2 separate regions of the Homo sapiens genome follow, and region 1 is linked to region 2. The links come from fine-mapping of genetic effects on gene expression. A gene starts in region 2. The other region holds a variant in brackets. All regions are shown on one strand. Distances are between the middles of the regions. Region 1 holds the start of HBEGF (heparin binding EGF like growth factor). Region 2 holds the start of HARS1 (histidyl-tRNA synthetase 1).

Region 1 (12,517 bases), 350 kb after region 2:
ACCGAACTTGTACATTCCTGGTACAGAATGTGATGTGACCACATTCCAAGGTTAAGCACCAGAAAAGTTAACAGGAGCTCTGACGTATTTATATAGGGCTTTTCATTTTGCCAAGCACTTCAGAGATGCTATCTCCTTCAGTTGTCACAAGAACCTCCTAAGTAGATTGTTATTCTCCCCACTTATAGACGAAGAAGCTGAGACACAGAGAGAAAGGTTATCACATCCTGTAAATCAGGCACTGTCAATTGTTATAGAATTGTCTCCCCAAGTCTTTTTTTTTTTTTTTTTTTTGAGACGGAGTCTTGCTTTGTCGCCCAGTCTAGAGTGCAGTGGTGCCATCACAGCTCACCGCAACCTGCACCTCCCAGGCTCAAGTGATTCTCCTGCCTCAGCCTCCTGAGTAGCTGGGATAACAGGTGCCTGCCACAACGCTCGGCTAATTTTTGTACTAATAAATAGAGACAGGGTTTTGCCATGTTGGCCAGGCTGGTCTCGAACTCCTGACCTCAGGTGATTTGCCCACCTCAGCCTCCCAAAGGGCTGGGATTACAGGCATGAGCCACCGCGCCCAGCCTCCTCAAGTCTTTTGACAGCAACATGACAGCAAATAATTCATGATGGACATACTGGCCGGTGCCTGAATGCAGGGTAATTGTTTCAAGTTCTCATTTTTCACTTGAGGAATCTGAGGCTTGAAGAGAGAGATGGGTGTGTAATGAGGGAGGAATCACTTTCTCTCTGTGCTGGCCAACACAGAGGGGATGGCTGTAGGGGCAAAGTCCTTGGTCTGGAGATGTTAATCATTCAAAGTCACAAAAATGGGACCAGAAATAGAGAAGGATGGTTTGGGATCCAGCACATTATAAATATTCCTTCCTCAACATCTTCTGGAGATGACAGGGATTCCTGAAACCCCCTCACCTCCAAAAGCCTCCCCCTATCTCATCCATTCCTATCCTTCATCCTATTCAAATAGATCCTAGCCCCAAACAATCAGACAGCAGAGCCTGTTCATCCCTGAATATGCATGAAGCACGCTACTTCCAGGTGCCCAGCCAGCATAAGAAGGTACACGGGGGCTCCAAAGGGCAGGCCTGAATTCTAATCTAATCCAGCTGTATGCCCAAACTGTTTGATTAACTGTCTCAGATGGGGTGAGAGAAGCCAGCCTGGGCCAAGAAGCAATGACCCCTCATCCTGACATTCCAAGTTTGGGTAACTCTGGGCTCATGGTCAGACCTACCCTTAATGGAGGTGCCCTTCTTTACCCCTCTCCCCAACGCAGCAGAGTTCAAGGGCTGTGCAGGATTCACTTCTGGTCAGAGGGGAATGAGAAGGCAGCTGAATCCTCTCCCCCAGGGGGCACAGCTTCCCTCTGACCTCTGAGCCTGAGTTGCTTTTTTGGGTTGAGGTTTCCAAAACTCTGGGTGGCCTTGCAGATCTAGCATCTCTTTGATAAGCATGGCCATCTCCCAGAAAGGAACACTTCATCTCTGAGGATGGCTAGCTCATGATAAACCAACATTTTATTCAAGTTCCCACTTAAAAAGAAAAAGGAAAGAAAGCAAGAAAAAAATTTGGTCATAATAACCGCTGTCATTGAGTAAGTACCTACTATGTGCCAGGCATCATATTCCGCTTTATACACATGATCTGACTGAATCATCACAAAAGCCCTATAATAATAACTACTATTATTGTCCCCACTTTTCAGGTGAGCAAACTGTAGGTAAGAGAAATTGAATAACATGTTCAAAGTTAGAAAGAAAAAAAAACCAACAAAATTTGAACCCCCAAGTATCTGACTCCCAAGACTGTATCCATTTCATTAGCTGCCCTGCTGTGCTTACCTAAGCATCCTTCCAGTCTAGTGAGCCAGAGTTTCTTATTATCCCTCAGAACAGATGAAGGACTGAAACTCAGTAAAACTGATAATGTTACCCTCCACAGAAGCATAGAGATGGCGGCTGTCGTCTCATCCATTTGAGTGTTGAGCTTAGGAGAGCACAAGCCCAAGTGAACGAGGGGGTTTCAAATTGAGGCTGAGACACTCACTAGCTGGGTGACCTTGGGATGTTACCTTTTAAAGCTTCAATCCTTTAAAATGCAGATGATGATAACAGTGTCTAGTTTGGGGGATGTTGTGAGGATCAAGCAAGATAATGCATGTGCAGTGTTGATTACAGGGGAATTGTCACCACTAGCACCGCTTTCTTCCAGGTCCTCCCCACTGGGGAGCAAGTGCTCTCTCCAAATCAAGAACTCTGGCCTAGCAGTGAGTCAGCAGCACTCAGAGTCCCATGGAGCCTGCCTTTCCAGAGGCCCAGGAAACTCGCATGGGCTGGGAAGCAGGATGCCAGGGTTTCTGCTCTGCACTTGCCCCCTTCTGACTCACTGGTGGCCCAGGGCTAATCAGTCTCCAAGCCTCAGTTTGCTCATGGTCAATAGACAGTCAATAAAAGCAGGCTTGTCTGTCTGAACTCTACTTCCTTAGGACTATGTTCCTGGCATTTGACAACCTGACATCCAGAGAGCAGGTGGGGGAGACCTGAGCAGGAGGAGGGGACAATATGGAGGAATCCTGCATGACAGTGCTGTCTCATTGACATCTCATATGATTCTGACAATAATGGGGCATAAAATCCAGTGTCTACCTTGGCTTATAACGTCCTCTTTTATCTGTTGCTAGCCTTTGTTCCAATATCATCCCATATCTCTCCTTTTTTGGCCCTCTTGCTTTTCCTTGAATGCTCCCAACTTTTTTCCATTTCAGAGTCTTTGCACTATTTGCACATCTTGGAATGCTTTTGTCATAGATGATCCCAAATCTGATTTCTTCTTCTCATTCAGGCCTCAGCTTACATGTCACCTGCTCAGAGAAGGCTTTGCTAATCAGTTTAAAGTGTCATCCTGGGCACTGGAACATATTATCCTACAGCACATCATTGTATTTTAACTTTCATCTTAGCAGTTATCACTATAGGATATGTTTTTCCTTGTTTATTTCCTTAATGTGCTGCCTGTCTACTATAGAATATAAGCTCTGTGAAAGCAGGTCCTGGGCTGTCTTATTTATTTCTATGTCCCCAGTGCCCCCCAAAAATGTTCAGTTAATGTTTATGATATAATTGAGTTAATGAGATTGCCTCAGCATGAATTGTGATTCCTTTTCTTTGCTCAGAGACATCCAAGATTCTGAGAGGGGAAGTGACTGTCCCAAATCCAATTCAAGCTTTTTATCTTCTTTTTTCAGGCCCTTCCTGTAAAACCTGGCTGACACACAAACCTAGCTGGGGTGAGGCTCCAGGTGTGATGAAAGTTTGGAGTTGCCCCATGAATGGGACTGAGGCTGATGTGGGGGTGAGAAGGCGGAAGGACAGAGCATGTGAAGGGAGAAAGGCAGGCTGGGGCAAGAGAGCAGGGTGTGACTCTGGCGAGGGTGGGGGAAAGGGGGTGATTTGACCATGTGTCAGGAAGTGTTTCTCTCCACCCTCCCCTGGGGAGAGCCTTGACCCCAAGGTGGCTTTGTTTTGGGGAAGCAGGTGGCCAGGCAGCTGCTGAGGGAGGGCAAAGTCATGGCTTGGGCGGTGACCATGCACTGAGGTCCTAGGCCCGATACTCATCACCCAAAAGGATAATCTAACAGTGGCTCTTAGCCAAATAGGTGACAGGTGAGCTTCTGTCTGAAACCAGCCCAACTATATCATAAAGCCTCAGATATGGCCTAGGGGAAGGCAAGCGATCTAGAGAAGTGAGAGAAAAGAGGCCTCTAAGGAAATAGAGTGGTCAAGTGCTTAGTGATTATTATTAACAGCAACAATAATAATGGGTCACATTTATTGAGAGCTTATAGTGTGCCTGGCACTATACTAACTACTTTTATGTGTTCCCGCATTCATTTCTCAAAAAGCTCCCTACAAAGTAGTCATTATTATTATTGTTATTATTTTTTCCATTTGAGAGACGTCAAAACTGAGGCTCAGTGAAATTAAGTTTCTTGTCCAAGGTCACACAGTAAGTAGCAAAGGCAGGATTCAAACTCAGGTCTGTAGTGATTCCAGTGCACTATGGAAACCTAGGCCTAGGTTACTGGAGCAAGTTAAGAGGGCAGGGCCAGACTGACCCCTGCAAAGGTGGGGATAGGGAGGGACAGTGGGATAGACTGTGTATAAATAGCAGGCCTGTTTTTATCCCTACACACAGGCAGAATCCGGCAAGTGCTCTATCTGGCACAATTTCAGGGCTCTGAAAGCCAACCCAGCCCTGTGTCAAACAACTCTCTCCCCAGCACGTCCCTGGAAACTGAAATACCTACTGAGACACTCATTTCTTTGGGTCAGGACAGTGACTCCAGAAGACCCCTGCAAAAGCACATGGGTTGGAAGAGAAACACCTAGTGTCTGTGAAACAGCAATCTAGGTTAGCCAGCTGGGTCCTATGGGAGGGTGGCTCATTTTTTATGTTGAGGAAAAAGGTGGCAGTCAAAGGCAAGGAAAAGAATAAGGCTTGTTTCACAACCTGTGTCTCTCCAATCTCAGAAGCCTGGGAATTACAACCCATAGTTCAAAAATCCTAATGTCCCCTGAGGGAAGATGGGAGGAAGCCACTCCAGAGACTAAGAGAGTACTAACTTCCTTTGCTTTTGCTGGATTGATACTAAGTGCCTGCAACTTCAACTCTGGTTATCTCGGGTTTATGAGAACGGCTGGCATTCACGTGTCTAATTTTTAAATGATAGATGAATTAATTATTATTTGATACTTGCCGTGTTGGTAGGCCAAAAGGTGGGCTTCTGAAACTTAGAGGGTGACAGGGATGGAGACCCCTGGTATGGGGCTTAGATGAAGCAAGAGGCCAGGCCCGGAACAGAACTCAGCTCAGCAGTCAGTCACAAGGCTGCAGAGTGACAGGCGTTTGGGGAAAGGTAGGAACCGCTCTCCGCCACCTGCCGGTCAGTAGCCCTACCCACAATCAGGCCGCGGCTGCCTCGGCCTGGTCCCAAAAATTGTGAACGCCGCCCTCTCCTCCCGCCCAGTCCTCCGCCGCGCCCGCGGGGTCGGGGGCTGCGCTGCCGGCGCCGCGAGCCGGGCGAGCTTCCCAGCACGGGAGGAGGGAGGGGGCGGCGCCGGGCGGGGCGGAGCTTCCGCGCCTCCTGGAGCCTTATTCCCGGCCGCGAGCCGGGCAGCGCTCATTCGGCCGAAGGAGCTACGCGGGCCACGCTGCTGGCTGGCCTGACCTAGGCGCGCGGGGTCGGGCGGCCGCGCGGGCGGGCTGAGTGAGCAAGACAAGACACTCAAGAAGAGCGAGCTGCGCCTGGGTCCCGGCCAGGCTTGCACGCAGAGGCGGGCGGCAGACGGTGCCCGGCGGAATCTCCTGAGCTCCGCCGCCCAGCTCTGGTGCCAGCGCCCAGTGGCCGC[C/T]GCTTCGAAAGTGACTGGTGCCTCGCCGCCTCCTCTCGGTGCGGGACCATGAAGCTGCTGCCGTCGGTGGTGCTGAAGCTCTTTCTGGCTGCAGGTAAGAGGGCTGCCGACGCCCCCGGAGATCGGGGGGATGGGGGCGTTGTGCTGGGGGCATGGGGGAAGGTCGCCGCAGCGCACCCGGCACGGGCCACTTGGTGGGGCCCTTGCGCTCTGGCGGACGGGCGTCGGCATCGGTGCGTGTTGGTCAGGGGTCTGGGCGGGTGTCTGATGCGGCCTGGCCTCTCGCCCGCAGTTCTCTCGGCACTGGTGACTGGCGAGAGCCTGGAGCGGCTTCGGAGAGGGCTAGCTGCTGGAACCAGCAACCCGGACCCTCCCACTGTATCCACGGACCAGCTGCTACCCCTAGGAGGCGGCCGGGACCGGAAAGTCCGTGACTTGCAAGAGGCAGATCTGGACCTTTTGAGAGGTGGGTGTGGAGGCCCCCCATCCTTGGACCTTGGTGGGCTGTTGAAGAATAAGCAGATCCAAGATTCTTGCTGTTTGGGCAATACTGTGGGTTGAGGGTATTCATGGAGAACCTCGGGGAAAAGCTGATCGGCCTGATGGGCACTGGGGGATCCTGGAATATAGGTCCCACTCTCTCTCTCTTGTCATTGCCTCACCTGCTGGGTTGCTGCCCTTCTGGGTACTCCGGGGCAAATTGAATCAGACGTGTTGTCTGGGGTTGTTACGTTCTTCTTAGGTAAGCTGGGTGATAGGAACAAGGAATGGTTGAGATGCTTTCCCTAGAGCTACTATGTAAAAATGGGCGCCAGTTCTAATTCCCATATCAAATGACTATTATATATAAAATAGAGGTAACACATGCGGAGATGCCCAGGCACATCTCTAGAAAGTGTGCAGTGTTGGCCTCCTCCATCCACCTGTCTCCAGATTGGGGAAACAGAGGGGAATGAGGAGCTCTTGGCCGCCCTAGATGAGGCTGTGAATGGTGAGCACTGAGCCCCTAGGGGGCTGTATTAAAATGCTGGATATCTGTGAATGCTACCGGAAACCTGCAGCTTACTGAGCACCTTGCATTCCTGAGGAGACTCCAAATGGGGAGGGCTGTGTAGGATCCTCCAACCAGCCTCTTTGGCTGTGGCCAAGTACAGGTACAGGGCAGAGTCCAGAGCCTGCCAGCTCTCCTGCCTCCAAACCTGAGGAGATTATCCAGAGTAGAGCAAGGACTCAGCACTGTACCCTGGAATGACTATATTTGGTTGGACAGATGCCCACCTGTTCTAGTTCCACCTGCTCCTCAGCTGCCCTTCTCCCTCATTCCCAGGAGCTTTCCTTGGATACTCTCTCTACTTTGTATAAATCAAGCACATACTCCAAAACTGAGCCTGGGCTCCCATACTTCATCCTCTCCCAGTGGCCCTCTGGGGTTGCCCATGACCTGAACAGCCTGGATTCTCCTGGCCCTCTCCTCCTAGGCTGGGCAGGGCTGGGCTGTGACTCACCCCACCCCCACCCCCCACCCACACGGCTGCTCCTCTTACCTCTGCAGACCTGACTCACTGCTCCCTGTCCATGGCAGGAGCCTGGCTGTCACCCTGCACCTTCTCCCTCCCCTTTCTGATTGGCTTGGCCCCCCTGCCTTGCTCTCCCCGAAGCTCTGGTCACTGGGTTCCTCTGACCACCTGTATCACCTTCTGAGCTCTGAGGGGGCCTGGGACTGGATGAGAGGAAATGAAAGACTGTGGGGGCTGCTGGCACCTACTTCTCTTCCCTTCTTTTGGCTTTGCTGGGCAAGGACTATTTTTCAGGTCTGGGGATCCTACCACCTAAAATAAATGACTGCTACCATTTATTAAATTCCTACTGTGTTCTAGGCACTTGATATGTTATCCTGGCTAATGTAACACTTATAGCAACCTTTTGAGATAGTTACTTTGGCTATCCACATTTTACTGAGAACCTGAGGTTCAGAGGAGTTAAGTGACTGCCCACAGTAAATAGCTGAAATTGGAGCACAGGTCTATGGACTTCAGAGCCCATTCATGCCTGGATCAGCATCTCAGGTGCTCTAGACTTGTGAGAGGGAGGAGATGGGAGTGTGTGAGGCAGCTTGGTGTGGTGAGGAAGGACATTGGAGTGAAGTCCAGAGAACACAGTTCTAATCCCAATCCTGCATGACCTTGAGTAAGTCACTCTGCCTGCCATGAGTTTTTTCTTTTTTTCTTTTTTTTTTTTTTAAACATAGTCTCACTCTGTCACCCAGGCTGGAGTGCAATGGCACGATCTCAGCTCACTGCAATCTCTGCCTCCCAGGTTCAAGTGATTCTCCTGCCTCAGCCTCCTGAGTAGCTGCGATAACAGGCACACACCACCACGCCCGGCTAATTTTTGTATTTTTTGTAGAGATGAGATTTTTGCCATGTTGGCAAGGCTGGTCTCGAACTCCCGACCTCAGGTGATCCACCTGCCTCAGCCTCCCAAAGTGTTGGGATTACAGGCGTGAGCCACCGTGCCTGGCCACATGGTATTCTTTGAAGTCCCTCTAGCTTGAGACTCTAAGTCTCTAGTCTAACGTATCATGCTTACCCTTCTGTAAGACACATGGCTGTAGCCATGGATGTGGGCACCTTTTTCCTGATGGGGGATAAAAGGGTGGGATTGGGCTGATAGGCATAGTCCCTGGTCAATCCCAGCTGGATATCTGGGTGAGGCTGTTTTTCCCCCAGTCTCTCTGAAGCATGGAAAGAAGGAGGGAGTCATCATTGTTCCAGTTCCTTCTGGACAGTTCCTTACTTTCCATTTTTCTATCCCTTGTACACCCTGTACCCCCCAATCCAGAGAGCTATAAACAGGACATTGGGGGTTAAATATGAATGAATCTTTGAGAAAGTGGGTGAGCTGTAAAGGGTATGCAAGTTAAATATTTTGCTTGAAGTTGAAAAAGCAAGGCCGTGACCAGGGCTGGCCTGCTTGCTGTTCCTGAGCCAGGCTCTGCCCTGGGCTCATAGTACTAAGGGGTGCCCCAGAAGAGACCACCTGAACACATGGACACTGTTCTTATATTAGGAGCCCTCCAACCCCAGAACCTCCAAGTACCTTCTCTAGAAGCAATTTTTGTGTGTGACACTGTCTTTCTGCAAGTGGTTCACTGAGTACAGCATCAGGAAATGAGGCTGATTGAAGGCCAAAATAGAATGAAGTGGGTGTGGGGGAGTAGGAGATGGGGGTGTAAGGTGGACAGTGGGGTGGAGGTGAGGTTGGTAGAATTGCCCAGTTACTCAACAAAAGCATTCTGAGAATGAGGCTCTTACACAGAGACTGTGAAATGCCTTCCTTGGGACCCACCCTAGCTTCTACTTCCTACCGAGGTTCCCTCTTTCTGGTGGTTCTGCCCAATCTTCCTGCTCTTCCTTCTGCCTCTTAGGAGGCACTGAGCTAAGGGGCCTTCCCAGATCTCTGACTTCAGGTGGAATCAAAGCATATATACTCCTTTCAAGCACTATGCTCTTCTGATTTTCTTCCCAAAGAGTCAGACTTTAACAGAGTGCTTTTCTCCTACAGTCACTTTATCCTCCAAGCCACAAGCACTGGCCACACCAAACAAGGAGGAGCACGGGAAAAGAAAGAAGAAAGGCAAGGGGCTAGGGAAGAAGAGGGACCCATGTCTTCGGAAATACAAGGACTTCTGCATCCATGGAGAATGCAAATATGTGAAGGAGCTCCGGGCTCCCTCCTGCATGTAAGTGCCCCTTCCCCAGGGCTGAATCTCATCAGCACACTTTGTCAGCCACGTGGCTGTTCCTCGTTGTCACTGTTCCTTGAATTCATAATTTCACCCAGTTTCTTCTCAACCTCTGGGCGGAAGTTGGGAGGAGGGGAAATATATTTTTAGTCAGCGGAAGCCCCCTCCCCCCTATAGGATGCAATTTCCTGTGGTATGGTTTTGTGACGTGCTTTAATCCTTGGGGACATTTCCTGCTTGCCCAGAAATGAGCATGTGGCTAGGACAGCTGGCACCTGAAGGCAGGCCCTTAATTCTTGCCTGATGCCCTACTCTGGGAGGGAGAAGCCAGTAGGAAACATGGCAGAGTGGGCTTCCAGGGCAGAGTAGAGCTCCTGTGGGAAGGTAGGAAGTGCATTTGGATGCATGATGTATAGGTATGTGTGTATTTGGGTTTATGTGCATGTAAGTGTGCAAATGTGGATTGACTGTGAGGCATGGCAGGACTGTACAGAGAGGGATCATCATGGCGGCAGGTTGAGGCCTCTCTTTCTTCTTCCTTATCCCAGCAAGGACGAGGAGGTGGGAGACATGGAGAGTACTGGCCTTTGGCCACGTTGTGAGAGAACAATTCCTTTGTGCAGGGTTCACAGGAAATGGAACCTGACCCATTAGGCATCAGCCCCCGGTCAGGCAACATCACCCCTTCCCTGGGTAGGTGTGTGGGTGGAGGGGCTGTGGGTTCCTTAGCCTCTCTCCTAAGCCAAACCCAGCAAACGGCTGCCTTGGCAACCCCTCAGGGATGACAGCACTGCCATGCTCTCTGGCAGGCATAATGTTGCCACTGTGCCTGAGGCCAACACCCTGCGTCAGGCTGCAAACATCCATTCCCTTCCCTGTGGGGAGGGAGGCTCTGGGGGCCTTAGTGGGAGACTCTGGACAGGGCCAAGAGACTGTTGTATGCACACTGCCTCCAGCCTGTCAAGAAGGCGGCGTGCCTGGCATCCCTTCTACTGGTGATTGGTGCAGATCCCTTAGCTTTTTAAAGCTTCCTTGTTTTGTCTGATCACACACAGCAGAGCTGCCCTGTATTTGGCAGTTGGCAGACAGACCCATCACTCCCCACCATGTCCACAGTCACTTGTGCATCCTTTCCTATAACATCCTTGTCAGGAGCTTGGTATTAGAGGGAGTTGTTTAAGAGTGGCATAGAAAGCCCCCATATTATCCTTCCCAAGGTCTTGGGACAGGGTGGGAAATGTTCATCTTAAATTTGTAAAATGGCATCATTAGTACAGGGTGAAGAAGGTGACTCAAGTAGTCAAGGTGGATTGAGGTCAGGAATCTGTCTATACCAGATTGGTCCTGGGCATTTTGGTGGATGGATGTGGGGCTTGCACTGTGTGGTTGAGAGGCCTTATAAGGTTGCCCTCCTGGAGAGCTGGACTCGGATGACCACCTAAACCCAGAGAACCTGATATGGGTGCCCAGGCCACCTTCCCAGTGGTCCCTAGGGATAGTGATAACTATAATGATGTCATATCTCCTTTGTCCCAGAGTTTCAGTGTTTATATATAATATGAGTTGAGCCCAAGTATGTTGAGCCCCTATTTGGTGGCAGACACTACTTTAGGAGCTGGAGAGATATAGTTTCCTGGGATTTTTCAAAAGCCCTCTGCTGAGTAGGCAGGACTTGGTACCTCTACTTGAAAGGTGATGAAACTGGAGCCAGAAAATAGGAAGTAATTTGCCTGAGGTCAATAGCTAAATAAGTAGTTGGAAATAAGACAGAGTCTCAGTACCTGACTCCTAGTCCAACATGCTTTTCATGCCCTCAAGCTGTACTGGGTGTTGGCTTTCATCTTTCTTTCCTGTATCTGTCCTTATAGAGTTGGAGCAGCATTTTATAGAGGGCAGAGGGCAGCTGTTGTCCTAGAGGTCTCTTATTCTTTTACTAGTCTAACAGCACAGCAATCTGATTTGAAAACTTTACATTAACTTCTTGGGCAGAATTTTCTTTTTCTTTGTTCTTTTCTTTCTTTCTTTCTTTTTTTTTTTTTTTTTTTTTTTGAGACAGAGTCTCACTCTGTCTCCCATGCTGGGGTGCAGTGGTGTGATCTCAGCTCACTGCAACCTCTGCCTCCTGGGTTCAAGCAATTCTCCTGCCTCAGCCTCCTAAGTGGCTGGGACTACAGGCACCTGCCACCATGCCGAATTAATAATTTTTATATTTTTAGTAGAGACGTAGTTTTGCCGTGTTGGCCAGGCTGGTCTTGAACTCTTGACCTCAGGTGATCCGCCTGCCTCAGCCTCCCAAAGTGCTGGGATTACAGGCATGAGCCACCATATCTAGCCTTTTTTTTTTTTGAGATGGAATCTCGCTCTGTCACCCAGGCTGGAGTGCAGTGACACAATCTCGGCTCTCTGCAGCCTCCGCCTCCCAGATTAAAGTGATTTTCCTGCTTCAGCCTCCTGAGCAGCTGGTATTACAGGCACATGCCCCCACATCTGGCTAATTTTTAAATTTTTGTGGAGATGGGGTTTCACCATGTTGGCCAGGCTGGTCTTGAACTCCTAACCTCAAGTAATCAGCCTGCCTTGGACTCCCAAAGTGCTGGGATTACAGGCGTGGGCCACCACTTCCTGGGCAGATTTTCAGGGGGTTGATTGCATGTCTGGACTGGCCCCCTACTGCCTCCTGCCCTTGCTACTCAGGGCAGAAAGCAGCAAGAAGACAGAAATCCTGGTTTGGGGGAATGTGACATCTGTGCACGTTCATCTGGGGATCTTTGTGGCTCTTGTTTGACTCCAGACCCAGGAACCACTAGCCAGGGTGTGTCCAGGCTGCTGTGGTGAGCCTGAGGCTAGCTGGCTTCCTAAACTAGCCCTCTGCAGCCACCATGAACAGGAAAACCCTTTTTGTGTCACCAGCCAAAAGTTGCCCTCAAAGAGTAGTTTCTGCTGGGCACAGTGGCTCACACCTGTAATCACAGCACTTTGGGAGGCCGAGGCACGTGGGTCGCCTGAGGTCAGGAGTTCGAGACCAGCCTGGCCAACATAGAGAAACCCCCGTCTCTACTAAAAATACAAAAATTAGCTGGGTGTTGTGGCGGGCGCCTGTAATCTCAGCTACTAGAGAGGCTGAGGCAGGAGAATCTCTCAAACCCAGGAGGCAGAACTTGCAGTGAGCCGAGATAGTGCCATTGCACTCCAGCCTAGGCAACAAGAGCAAAACTCCATCTCAAAAAAATAATAATAATAAATAAATAAAAGAGTAGTTTCCTGGGATTCCTGACTAGTTGCCTACCCAGAAATTGGCTGCAGAGTTTCCTGTGGCTGGAGGAAAACTGGGGACACTTGGGCTGAGGAGGAC
Region 2 (12,517 bases):
ACAAGACCCTCCTCCTTTGCCTCTAGCTTTGCCATCTGAAGACACAAAGTCGTTACAATAAGTAAAAGAGAAATTAAATTCAGGACAGGCCCTGGAGCTTAGCATATCTACAGAAAAGAGTTGTTTCAGAGGTAGAATTTGAGCACATGTCACCTTCAGCCTGGTTCTATCACAGCTCTGAAAACCCTGGTTCTTACCATGACACTGGACATAGTCCCCAATTCGATCAGCCACCTCAGGAGCCAGGCCTTTCTTCACCACCATCTCATGTCTCACATCTTTCCAAGCCATCTGCATAAACACCCAAACATTAGCCCAGCCCCAAGATCTTTCTTTCTCAAACTGAAAAAGGACAACTCAACTTCCATTCAGTATATACATCACAAGTAGCTAACTGTATACTCAGCAAAGTCAGAGACAGCTTAAGAAATCCAGTCACAATCCCCACTGTATAGCATGACTCAGATCTTCCTTCAGAGTATGCCTCCTTACCTTCCACCCCAAAATAGCCCACTTCCAGCCACAATCTCCTTATTTTTCACTAGTGGTATGGATTTGAGGGCAGGGCAGAAGCTAGATAGGGTCTACTGAAGTATGTCTTCTTTGTTACCTTGTCTAGTTTATCTATGGAGGAGCAGATGGCACGGAACTTGCTTTCAGGAACACCACAGACAGCAAACATCCCATCCACAATCCGCCGGTCATTTACCTGAGAACTCAATGTCAGTGACCCAAGTGCTTGTCAATGCCCTTCCACTCAAAACAATGGCAGTACCTACTTTCCTGACACACAAAAAGGATGGAAATTTCACAGGAAGAGTACAGACATATAGGAAATACAACAGCTTTACTAGGAAAGTCCTACAGTTGCAGGCTTAAGGGTTGGAGTCACCCAAGTTTGGGACTTGCATAAACAGTATTAGGCCAAATCCAGACTTCTCCCACAGTTCTCAGCCCTGGCCTCACCTTAATGAGAAAGTCTCCCAACTGCAATCCACTTAGGATTTCACACATGATCTTCAAACACTCTGCATCGGGGATCATAGGGTCAAACTGACCAGCAATGTCAAAATCCTACAGCAAAGAAAAAGATGGGAAAAAACATCCATTATCCAGCCAGTTTCAAGGTTGTGGCCCCTAGAACTATCAAACTGTGCTGCTCCCATCAGGTCACTTACACACTGGCAGAACTCCCTATAACGGCCTTGGACTATGGTTGGGCTCTCTCGCCGCCACACCTTTCCAACATGATAACGTTTCATCTTCTTCACCTTATTCATGGCCAGATAACGAGCAAAGGGAACCTCACATAAATGGGTTAAGGAAGAGGGATACTGCATCCAAAGATTAGGCCCAGTATACAGACATTAGGGAGGACTGGGCCTGGATCTCATCCACTAGGGTAAGAACAAGGACCTTCCCTTTTTTCCACTATCCCCAAGGCCTAGCAGTGCTTGGAATTCAATATATATTGAATAGTGTCAAATGAAGGAATCTCACCTAGCAAAACTAAAAGTTCAGCAGAAAGCAAGGCAAGTAGAGATAGAAGTGACCCAAGAACTAACTTCAGGTCTTTCTGCCCATTCAGATCGATTCCGAACCATCTCAAAATAGTCAAGCTTCAGAACTTGGATTTGCCTAACAACTTCTAAGCTACTGGTTCTGAAAGTGCAGGGAAAGGACTACATGCATCTTAATTACCCACGATGCTTGTTTAAAATGCAGACTGTAGGCCAGATGCAGTGGCTCACACCCGTAACCCCAGCACTTTAGGAGGCCAAGATGGGAGGATCACTTGAAACGATGAGTTTACAACCAGCCTGGGCAACAAAGACACCCATCTCCACAAAAAAAATTTTTTTTTTGAGACAGAGTTTTGCTCTTGTCACCCAGGCTGGAGTGCAATGGCGCAATCTCGGCTCACTGCAACCTCTGCCTCCTGGGTTCAAGTGATTCTCCTGCCTCAGCCTCCCTAGTAGCTGGGATTACAGGCACCTGCCACCACAGCCAGCTAACTTTTTACGTCAAAAGAGATCTGTGGAGACAAGGTGACAGTCAGTCCCAAACTAGACTCAGAACCTGAGAGCCCCAGAGCTCAGCAGGAGCTGAGTAGAGATGGGGTTTCACTATATTGGCCAGGCTGGTCTTGAACTCCTGACCTCAGGTGATCCACCTGCCTCAGCCTCCCAAAGGGCTTGGATTACAGGCGTGAGCCACGTGTCTGGCCAAAAAAAACAATTTTTTAATACAAATTATTGAGCCCCATTCCAGCTACAGAATTAGCTAAGAATCTCTGGGACTGCAGCCAAATGTCTGTGCTTCTGCAAGCTCCCCCAAAGGATTATGATACACACTAGAGTTAAATGACAGGGCTCCAGGCCAGGCTTCCGTAGCAGAACTGCCTTCTGGGAGAAACTAGAAGTATAGGCAATGGACCTCTAAGATCCCAAAGTCACGTTCTCCACTTTTGTCAGAGAAAGCCCGCTGGATTTGGAAAGAGACAGGTCAGGCTCCAGTACTCAAAAGGATACAGTAAGGTCATAGCGGAGGGACAACAGCTCTCCACCTTGATCCTTCAGATCATACATGAGCCCAGAGTCCTCTCCATACTTCTCAGTCAGGGTTTCCTATAGGGGTCAAACAGAATGAGCCACAGTTGAAAGCATGACTCCAAAACACAGATGAGAAGCCCTTTGGGACACTGAACGCCATTGAAGAAGTGAGTGAGGTTGCACGTACTCTTTCTTCTCCCCTTACCTTCAGCTCAAATGCTGGGGTGTCCATCCCCTTTGCTCCATGACGTTTAAAGCAGCTGATAACCAAATCAAGAATTTTCTCCCTCACAACCATATGCTGAGGACTAAGATCCCTGGTACCCTGGAAACCAAAAGCAGCCATAGTGAAAACAAAAACAAAAAATAAGTCCATTTCAGACAAGGAGTTAAACTACACTTATTATGTAATCTCAGGTCTGGAGCTGAAATCTACTGAGTTCAAATGACTCTGAGCCGCACCTAGTATCTCAAGAATAGTATATATTTTTAAAATTTACTGTAAAGAACATTAAAAGGGGTCAGAGAGACATGCAAGGCAGAGGTCAGTCCTCCAAGGCACTCTAATGGGATAGGGTAGGCAAAAAGTATTACCTTTGGGGTCTTGATAATAAAATTTGGTTTCTCTTGATGTGCTTTCAGTTGGGATGTTAACACTGCCTCTGCAACCTGGCAGAAGAATGAATGTGAGATGTGGCTTCTCTGGACACTGGCCAGACCTGTGGCATCTCTGACCCTGTTGACCACCAACCTGCAAAGACTCTTCACCCTGAGCAACAGGAAGCCAAAGCACCATTTCATCTATCCCAATCTCAGTCCCACCCCAAAGAATCTATGTTGTATTTACAATTACACGTGTAATATATATGAGGTCAGGTCTTCACCACACAAGCTTCCTCACTGTATATGGATTTTTTTTTTTTTTTTTGAGACAGAGTCTCGGTCTGTTGCCCAGGCTGGAGTACAGTGGCACAATCACGGCTCACTGCAATCTCTGCCTCCTGGTTCAAGCAATTCTCCTGCCTTAGCCTCCCGAGTAGCTGGGACTACAGGCGCGCCACCACCACGCCCAGCTAATTTTTGTATTTTTAGTAGAGATGGGGTTTCACCATGTTGGCCAGGCTGCTCTTGAACTCCTGACCTCGTGATCCAACCGCTTCAGCCTCCCAAAGTGCTGGGATTACAGACATGAGCCACCGAGCTCAGCCGCATTTTTAATATTCTCAAATACTTTAAGAATCTGAGAATAATGAAGGCACTGAACAACCCACCACTACCAACACCAACCATTCAGGGGTAGGGATTATGGTGATCTTCTCCAGGTCACCGTTCCTACTGAAAGAGCAAAAATAATTTTTTTTTTTTTTTCAGATAGAGTCTTACTCTGTCGCCCAGGCTGGAGTGCAGTGGCACGATCTCAGCTCCTGCAACCTCCGCCTCCCGGGTTCAAGCGATTCTCCTGTCTCTGCCTCCCGAGTAGCTGGGATTACAGGCACATGCCACCACGCCCGGCTAATTTTTGTATTTTTAGTAGATACGGGGTTTCGCCATACAGGTCAGGCTGGTCTCAAACTCCTGACCTCAGGTGATCCACCCCCCTTGGCCTCCCAAAGTGATGGGATTACAGGCATGAGCCACTGTGCCCGGACAAAAAAATAATAATTTTTAATAAGGTAGCACTGGTTATCAGGTTTAGAGAGAGGAAAACTGTAACTTGAAGACAAGGGAACCAGCTCAAGGACACAGAACAAGCCTGTGGAATGATAAGATATGGATTTCTTGAATGAGCTAAAAAACTCAGACTGATAAGATGCTGTGATTGAATATCAATAAAAGATCTGTGCCCTATTGTTCACGATAGCACAAAGCATCTGCTAAGAGAGCATTAGAATCTTTCCGAAGTAAGGCAAAACTTAATCAGTGACATTACCAGCACGCTGTATGCCCTTCCAAAAATAGAGGATGTGGTGGTTCCATACTATGGCGATTATCTGCCCTAAGAGAAGTCCAAGTTCAAGTACACAATCCCTTATCTGCAATTCCAAAATCCAAAACTCTCTGACATCTGAAAATGTTTTTCTGAGATTCATTTTGAGGTAAATTCTAAGATGAACTCAGTCTACTTCTGATCTTTAGTCATCTCATTTACTAGGAATATTCATATATTTCGCTTAAAAATGTTACTGTTTGAGTCCAAGAGTTTCAGGAAAAAGTGTGGATATGAATTAAAATACTCCCTTACTACATATCCGTGTATAAGTCATTCATTTAATCTTGCAGCCTCCGTTTCCTCAACTGCAGAATGGAAATCAAAACTCCAACCTCTCAAGATTGCTCCAAGGATTAAATGACCAGGCATCCAAATCGCTTAGTTCAGTGTCAGTACATAGTGGGCACTCGATAAAAACCGATTGTAACACTACTGGAATACAGGCCGCGAGGCTATGCGTTCAGATCTGGAGACCCTGCTGGGACAGACCAGAGATAATTCTGTCTCGCTCACCTGGCTTTGGCAACGGACCGCCCCGGTGCACGAAGCGCAGGGCGGTCGCAGGAGCTGGCTGAGCAGCGAAGCCCAGGCCCTCCTGGGAAGAAGTCCGAGCAGGGGCATCGCGCGGCAGGACGCCGGCTTTCCGGGACAGGAACAAAAGGCCTGGGAAGGAGGCGGGTCAGACACCAGGAAGGGTGGAGGGCACTGCAAAGGCGGAACCCGCGCACCAGGGAAAACTCGGGCGTTTGCGCACCTCACTAGTCACGAAGGCTGAGGTGGGATCCTCCCAAGTTCCCTTAGTAGCCAGCTTCGGCACTTCCGGGAGGAGCCGGAAATAATTTTTGTGCTCGGCGGAGGCTCTCTAGGCGTGCGACCCAGCGACTCGATAGCCGGAAGTCATCCTTGCTGAGGCTGGGGCAACCACCGCAGGTCGAGACAGCAGGCGGCTCAAGTGGACAGCCGGGATGGCAGAGCGTGCGGCGCTGGAGGAGCTGGTGAAACTTCAGGGAGAGCGCGTGCGAGGCCTCAAGCAGCAGAAGGCCAGCGCCGAGCTGGTGAGATTTAGGCAGCAGGGGAGAGGGCCAAGGCAAAGCCTGGGAGGACGTAAAGCCAGGGTGTTCGGGACATAGGGTAGAGATGTGAGGGAAGCGACCAGTCTTGTAGGGAGGAGAGTGGGCTGCGTGGGGAGACATCCGGGGTGGGTCCCGAGAGAAACAAAGCTAGGCCTGAGCAGAGAGATGTGATGAGGGAGGAATATTGAATGAATGGCGGGGGAGGGAGGAGAGTGACAGATGGATAGCTCAGCGCCTTCTTTCCCTCCACAGATCGAGGAGGAGGTGGCGAAACTCCTGAAACTGAAGGCACAGCTGGGTCCTGATGAAAGCAAACAGAAATTTGTGCTCAAAACCCCCAAGGTAATATCATTCCTGTAGGGAGCCACTGAGAAAGTCTCTAACTCTACTCACGGGGCGCTTATGTCTGCCTCCCTAAACCAGGTCATTGAGGAGGATCTGAAATGCTGCAGAGGAGAGGACAGTCGCTCTGGGCGCTGGGCTGGACTGGACTCTACCTGAGTCATTCTGGGATGGCAAAGTGATGGCAGAAACTAGGCCAGCTGGGTGATCAGGGGAGTCAGCCTGCTGCTGCTACTCCTTCGTTCATTCAATAAATGTGTATTTAGCGCTATGTCTCTAGCACTATACAAAGCACTGAATATATACCATGGTGGACAATATAGCCTACCCTCATGGAGCTTACATTCTACTGAAGGAGAGAGACTTAGAACAAATAATCCCACACAGATTTTTTTGTTTTTTTTTTAAACAGAGTATCCTCTGTTGCACAGGCTGGAGTGCAGTGGCACATCTTGGCTCACTGCAGCCGCTGCCTCCTGGGTTCAAGCGATTCTCCTGCTTCAGCCTCCTGAGTAGCTGGGACTACAGGTGCCCACCACCATGCCCAGCTAATTTTTGTATTTTTAGTAGAGACGGGGTTTCACCATATTGGCCAGGATGGTCTTGAACTTCTGACCTCAAGTGATCTGCCCGCCTCAGTCTCCCAAAGTGCTGGGATTACAGACGTGTGCCACCGCACCCGGCCACCACATGTGGTTATGTAATTACATATTGTGAAAAATGATATAAAGAAATTAAGGTTGCTCTGAGAAAAATAAGGGAGAACTGGGGAGTCTGAGAAAGGCTAACTGAGGAAGTGATATACTAACTGATCTAATGAATGAGTAGGAGATAGCCAGAGGACAAGTGTGACAAAGATAGGTCCAGGTAGAGTATGGAAACCCTAAAGTGGGAAAGAACTTTGGTAGTTTTGAGGAACTAGAGGATGATCTACATGGCTAGAACTAAGTTAAGGAGAGTAGAGTGGAATGAGGTTGGAGATTCTGAGCTCATCCTCCAGTTCAGTTCCACTTTCTGTAAGTTCTATAAACAGAACTGTTTACCCCTTCATCTAGGTGCTCTTGGCACTTCATACATATTTGTTATTACACCAACTTTAAGTAGTTATTTATGTCGTTTATTTACCCTGAGACTGAGACTAGATGCCTAAATAGGTATAGTCAGCCCTCCATATCCCAAGGTCCCACATTCACAGATTCAACCAACTGTGGATCAAAACCATTCAGGGGAAAAGAAACGATTAAGAAAAAAAATCTGGCTGAGTGTGGTGGCTTACACCTGTAATCCCAGCACTTTGGGAGGCCACAAGGGGAGGATCATTTGAGCCCAGGAGCTTGAGACCAGCCTGAGCAACATAGTGAGTCCCTATCTCTAAAAACAAACAAACAAATAAAAACCTTTTGAAATCTAACAATAAAAATTTCAAATAAAAAATATAGTATAGCAACTATTTACATAGCCTTTACATTGTCTAAGGCATTATAAACACTCTAGAGACTATTTAAAGTATATAGGAGGATGTGCATATAATTTTATGTCAAGGGCTTGAGCATCCATGGATTTTTGGTATTCACATGGGGCCCAGAACAAATCTCCTGTGGATACTGAGGGATGATTCTATTTAATACATGTATTTGAAATTGAATTCCAAAGGAGAGGGGAGATGGTCTGTTTTCCTTGTGTTAAGGTTAATTCTTTGGGATCCTAAATTCATTGAGCTGTTTCTTTCTACATATAACTAATTTTTGAAGGTTAAAGAGACAGTGTAAAATCCCAAAGTGGTGATCATCAATGATTTTTCAAACTATTAGATGAAAAGCTTACTGTGGAATTTATGATGGATCAGTCTGTCCTCACTAGTGATCAGTTTTAACATCACTAAAAGTAGGACAACTAGACATTATGTTCCTGCTGATGTGATGCAAGAAGAAGTACACAGCACCACCTGGGAAGTATTCTTGCCAAGTAAATTGAACTTGAATCTAATCAGATCTTTGGACTAACTATCAGTTTACAGGAAATACTAGAGATGGAGGAACATGTTAGATGGCACATCAAGCATATTGTTCACCAAATCTAGAATGTGAAAATTTTTTTTTAGGACAAATGGCCCAATTTCCTCAGTTAATAAATGACCTTTTTAAAATAAAAAAAAAAAGTTGGGGAGGGAAGGAAACTATTGTAGATTAAATAGACATATCAGCTGATTACAACGCATAGACTTCATTCTGAAGCTGATTCAAATAAATCAACCATAAAAAGATATTATTGAGGCAACTGGGGAAAACTGACCATGGCTTAGCATTAGATAATATTAAGGAGTTGCTGTTAGTTTTGTTAGTTATAATAAAGATAGAGTCTTTGGGGTTTTTTAAATGTCCGTATGAGTTAGAGATTCATACTGAAGTATTTATGGATGAAATGATATGACGTCTGGGATTTATTTAAAAATATGTAAGAAAAACATGTCAGGGCTTAAATGAAATAAGAATAGCAGATGTTAATGGTTGTTGAAGCTGGGTAATGGATAAATGGTGACCTGTAATACTATTCTCTATATTGTGTCTTTGAAAATTTCCATACTATAGTGTTAAGATTATGCTAGAGAGTTAATATCCATTTTAGTATTAACAATAGAAAACTCAGTATTGTGGGGACAAGACTCTTTCAAGGGATCTTCATGGTCAAAACTATTTCTATAATAATTCTTTTGTTTTGTTTTGTTTTGTTTTGTTTTGTTTTGTTTTGTTTGAGACGGAGTCTTGCTCTGTCGCCCAGGCTGGAGTGCAGTGGCGTGATCTCAGCTCACTGCAACCTCCGCCTCCCGGGTTCAAGCGATTGTCCTGCCTCAGCCTTCCGAGTAGCTGGGACTACAGGGATGTGCCACCGCACCTAGCTAATTTTTTGTATTTTTAGTACAGATGGGGTTTCACCGTGTTGGCTGCGCTGGTCTTGAATTCCTGGCCTCAAGTGATCCTCCCACCTCGGCCTCCTAAAGTGCTGGGATTACAGGCGTGAGCCACTGCGCCTGGCCCTTCTATAATAATTCTAAGACATTATCTGCCTTTTTCGTTGTGTTAACATTTGCACTGAAGGCACAAAAGCGCTGGTGAGTAGAACTGCTGGTGCCTTAGCATACATTAAGACAGTGACACTAAACTGTACTAATAGCCAGTGTGTTCTTCACTGCCATGCACTCACAGTAAGTAAATAAATAAATTAATTAATTAATTAATTTAAAAAATTCAGTTTTACTTAACTATGTCATTGATAAAATGGTAAAACTTTGTTTGTTTTGGGGTTTCTTTGGAGACAGAATCTCACTCTGTTGCCCAGGCTGGAGTTCAGTGTCACGATCTTGGCTCACTGCAGCCTCCACTTCCCGGGTTCAAGCAATTATTGTGCCTCAGCCTCCTGAGTATCTGGGATTACAGGCGGGTACCACCACATGCAGCTAATTTTTTGTATTTTTACAGAAATACAAAAAACATACAAGAAACCTACAACATGTTTCACCATGTTGCCCAGGCTGGTTTGGAACTCTTGAGCTCAGGCAATCTGCCCACCTTGGCCTCCCAAAGTGCTAGGCTGAGCCACCATGCCTGGCCAAAAACTTACTGATTTTATTGAATCTTGACCCTTGAGGACCCTATTTTTAAATATTTGCTATGACAAAATGGGAAGTACACATAAAGCACTTCTGCACGCCAAGGTAGGGAAAATGCTTATGCCATTGTTCAAGTTGCAAGCTGATCTAGCTACTTTTTTCATAGAACATCTTGTTTTATTTGAATTAACAACTGAAAGATAAATTATGGTTTTTCAAACTTAAATATTTGGCAGACATTTTTACAACAATAAACGAAGTGAGCCTCGTCACCTCAAGGAAAACATCTGACAGTACTTGTAGGCAGTGAAAAAATTCAAGTATTCAGGTGAAAGTTAGAATTTTAGAAAACTTAGTCAGGGCATGGTGGCTCAAGCCTATAATCCCAGCACTTTGGGAGACCAAGGCGGGCGGATCACCTGAGGTCGGGAGTTTGAGACCAACCTGACCAACATAGAGAAACCCCATCTCTACTAAAAATTAGCTGGGCGTGGTGGCGCATGCTTGTAATGCCAGCTACTAGGGAAGCTAAGGCACAAGAATCGCTTGAACCTGGGAAGCAGAGGTTGTGGTGAGCCGAGATCGCGTCATTGCACTCCAGCCTAGGCAACGAGTGAAACTACATCTCAAAAAAAAAAAAAAAAGAATTTTAGAAAACTTGCATCTTCCATCATAAGCTTGACAGCTTCCCAATAATTAAAGAGTTTTCTACTGGGTGTGGTGGCTTACGCCTGTAATCCCAGCACTTTGAGAGACCAAGGTGGGCGGATCACCTGAGGTCGGGAGTTTGAGACCAGCCTAGCCAACATGGTGAAACGCTGTCTCTACTAAAAATAAAAATTTAGCCAGGTATGGTAGCTCACGTCTGTAATCCCAGCTCCTTGGGAGGCTGAGGCAGGAGAATCGTTTGAACCTGGGAGGTGGAGGTTGCAGTGAGCCGAGAACACGCCACTGTACTCCAGCCTGGGTGACAGAGTGAGACTCCATCTCAAAAACAAACAAACAAATAAAAACAGGCCAGGCAAGGTGGCTCATGCCTGTAATCCAAGCACTTTGGGAAGCAGAGGCAAGTGGATCATGAGGTCAGGAGATCAAGACCATCCTGGCTAACATGGTGGAACCCCGTCTCTACTAAAAATACAAAAAATTTGCCGGGCGTGGTGGCACGCGCCTGTATGTAGTCCCAGTTACTCAGGAGGCTGAGGCAGGAGAATTATTTGAACCTGGGAGGTGGAGGTTGCAGTGAGCCGAGATCACACCACTGCACTTCAGCCTGGGTGACAGAGCGAGACTCCATCTCAAAAAAAAAAAAAAAAGACTTTCTTGATGAGATCTGAAGTGATGTAAATAAATAAGGCTTCCTGATATTGTATAATGAAATGTATCAACATTTGAAAGACCTGTTATGAAATCATGCACAGGCAAAGGATCCATTCATTCAAAGTACAAAATACAGTAGTGGATTTTTTTTTGTAGGAAAATATACGTAACATAAAATTTACCATTTTAATGATTTTTTTTTTTTTTTGAGACAGAGTCTCACTCTGTCACCAGGCTGGAGTGCAGTGGCATGACCTTGGCTCACTGCAGCCTCCACCTCCTGGGTTCAAGCAATTCTCCTGCCTCAGCGTCCCAGGTAGCTGGGACTACAGGTGTGTGCCACCACGCCCAGCTAATTTTTGTATTTTTTAGTAGAGATGGGGTTTCACCATGTTGGCCAGGATAGTCTCGATCTCTTGACCCCGTGATCCACCTGCCTTGGCCTCCCAAAGTGCTGGGATTACAGGTGTGAGCCACCACGCCCAGCCCATTTTAATGATTTTTAAGTGTACAGTTCAGTAACATGAAGTACATTCATACTCATAACCATCACCATTATCCACCTCCAGAATTTTTTCATCATCCCCAATTGAAACTCTGTACCCATTAAACAATAACTCCCCACTTCACCCTCCCTCCAGCCCCTGGTAACTGCTATCCTACTTTCTACTTTCTGTCTCTATGGATTTGACTATTCTAGGTACTAGATAAGTGAGAGACTAATTGTTCTTTTTTTTTTTTTTTAAGTTCATTGATCTAGCTTTCAAATTCCACATTGCAACCAATCTTTAAGAAACAACCACTTGTTGGATTCTGATGTAGTACCAAAGAAAAATATCCACAGTTAGCTGAAAAGTTTGTTAAAATACTCTTCCTTTTACAACTACATATCTGTGTAAGGTTAGATTTTCGTTATATACTTCAACCAGCACGACATATCACGACAGATTGAATGCAAAAATCACATATGAGAATCCTGCTGTCTTCTATTCAGTCAGACATTAAAGATTTGCAAAGATGTAAATCAGTGCCACTCTTCTCACTAAATTGTTTTGGAAAACAGTTACCTTTTTCTAAAATATTATTTGCGTTAACATATAATAGATATATTATTTGTGTTAACATATGTTATTTGTTAAATGAATAAATATTTTAAAATTTTTGCCGTTCTAATTCTAATACAGTAAATATTGATAGGTATAATCCACTTTGGGGTCTTGAATACATAGTAAGAGTGTAAAGAGGTCCTGAAACCAAAGACTTTGGAGTAGGGTATAAAAGCCCAGATTGGAAGCTCTGACCTGGAAGGACAACACAGTTCTAGTCCTGACTGCCACGAACATGCTGAATGGCCTTAAGAAATGACTTAACTTCTCAACATCCTGTACTTCATCTGTAAAATTTATCTGCCTAGCCTATGTCATAGAGTTGTTACCAGAAACAAATTAGAGAACAAACAGTTGTAACTAAGATTTAAAAGAAAAGTTATATTGGGAGAGAAACGTTGCTTATAAAATTTGGAATTCAATTAGTTGAGCCAGTTTGAGTTGGTTATATTGCCTATAATCATGTAGGTATTTTTTTGTTGTTATTATTTTTGTTTGTTTGGTTGGGTTTGTTTTTGTTTTTGTTT

The links. PIP is the estimated chance that this variant, and not a neighbour inherited with it, causes the effect.
Region 1: its variant is fine-mapped to the expression of HARS1 in testis (GTEx, PIP 0.94).

What each region holds. Positions count from the first base shown.
Region 1 is chr5:140,339,280-140,351,796 of GRCh38, reverse strand. It overlaps HBEGF (heparin binding EGF like growth factor), which reads left to right and starts at 5,194. Exons shown (of 6, transcript NM_001945.3): 1 at 5,194-5,514; 2 at 5,713-5,886; 3 at 8,985-9,162. The coding sequence starts at 5,469. RefSeq lists silencers at 4,910-4,959, 5,000-5,279. The variant C/T (reference allele first, on the strand shown) is at 5,421.
Region 2 is chr5:140,684,295-140,696,811 of GRCh38, reverse strand. HARS1 (histidyl-tRNA synthetase 1) reads left to right here and starts at 5,442. Exons shown (of 13, transcript NM_002109.6): 1 at 5,442-5,597; 2 at 5,868-5,957. The coding sequence starts at 5,508. It overlaps HARS2 (histidyl-tRNA synthetase 2, mitochondrial), which reads right to left and starts at 5,357. Exons shown (of 13, transcript NM_012208.4): 1 at 5,056-5,357; 2 at 3,147-3,221; 3 at 2,758-2,877; 4 at 2,532-2,627; 5 at 1,179-1,304; 6 at 967-1,074; 7 at 611-709; 8 at 198-291. The coding sequence starts at 5,163. RefSeq lists enhancers at 5,106-5,175, 5,256-5,345, 5,506-5,735 and promoters at 5,007-5,323, 5,388-5,414, 5,386-5,507, 5,057-5,507.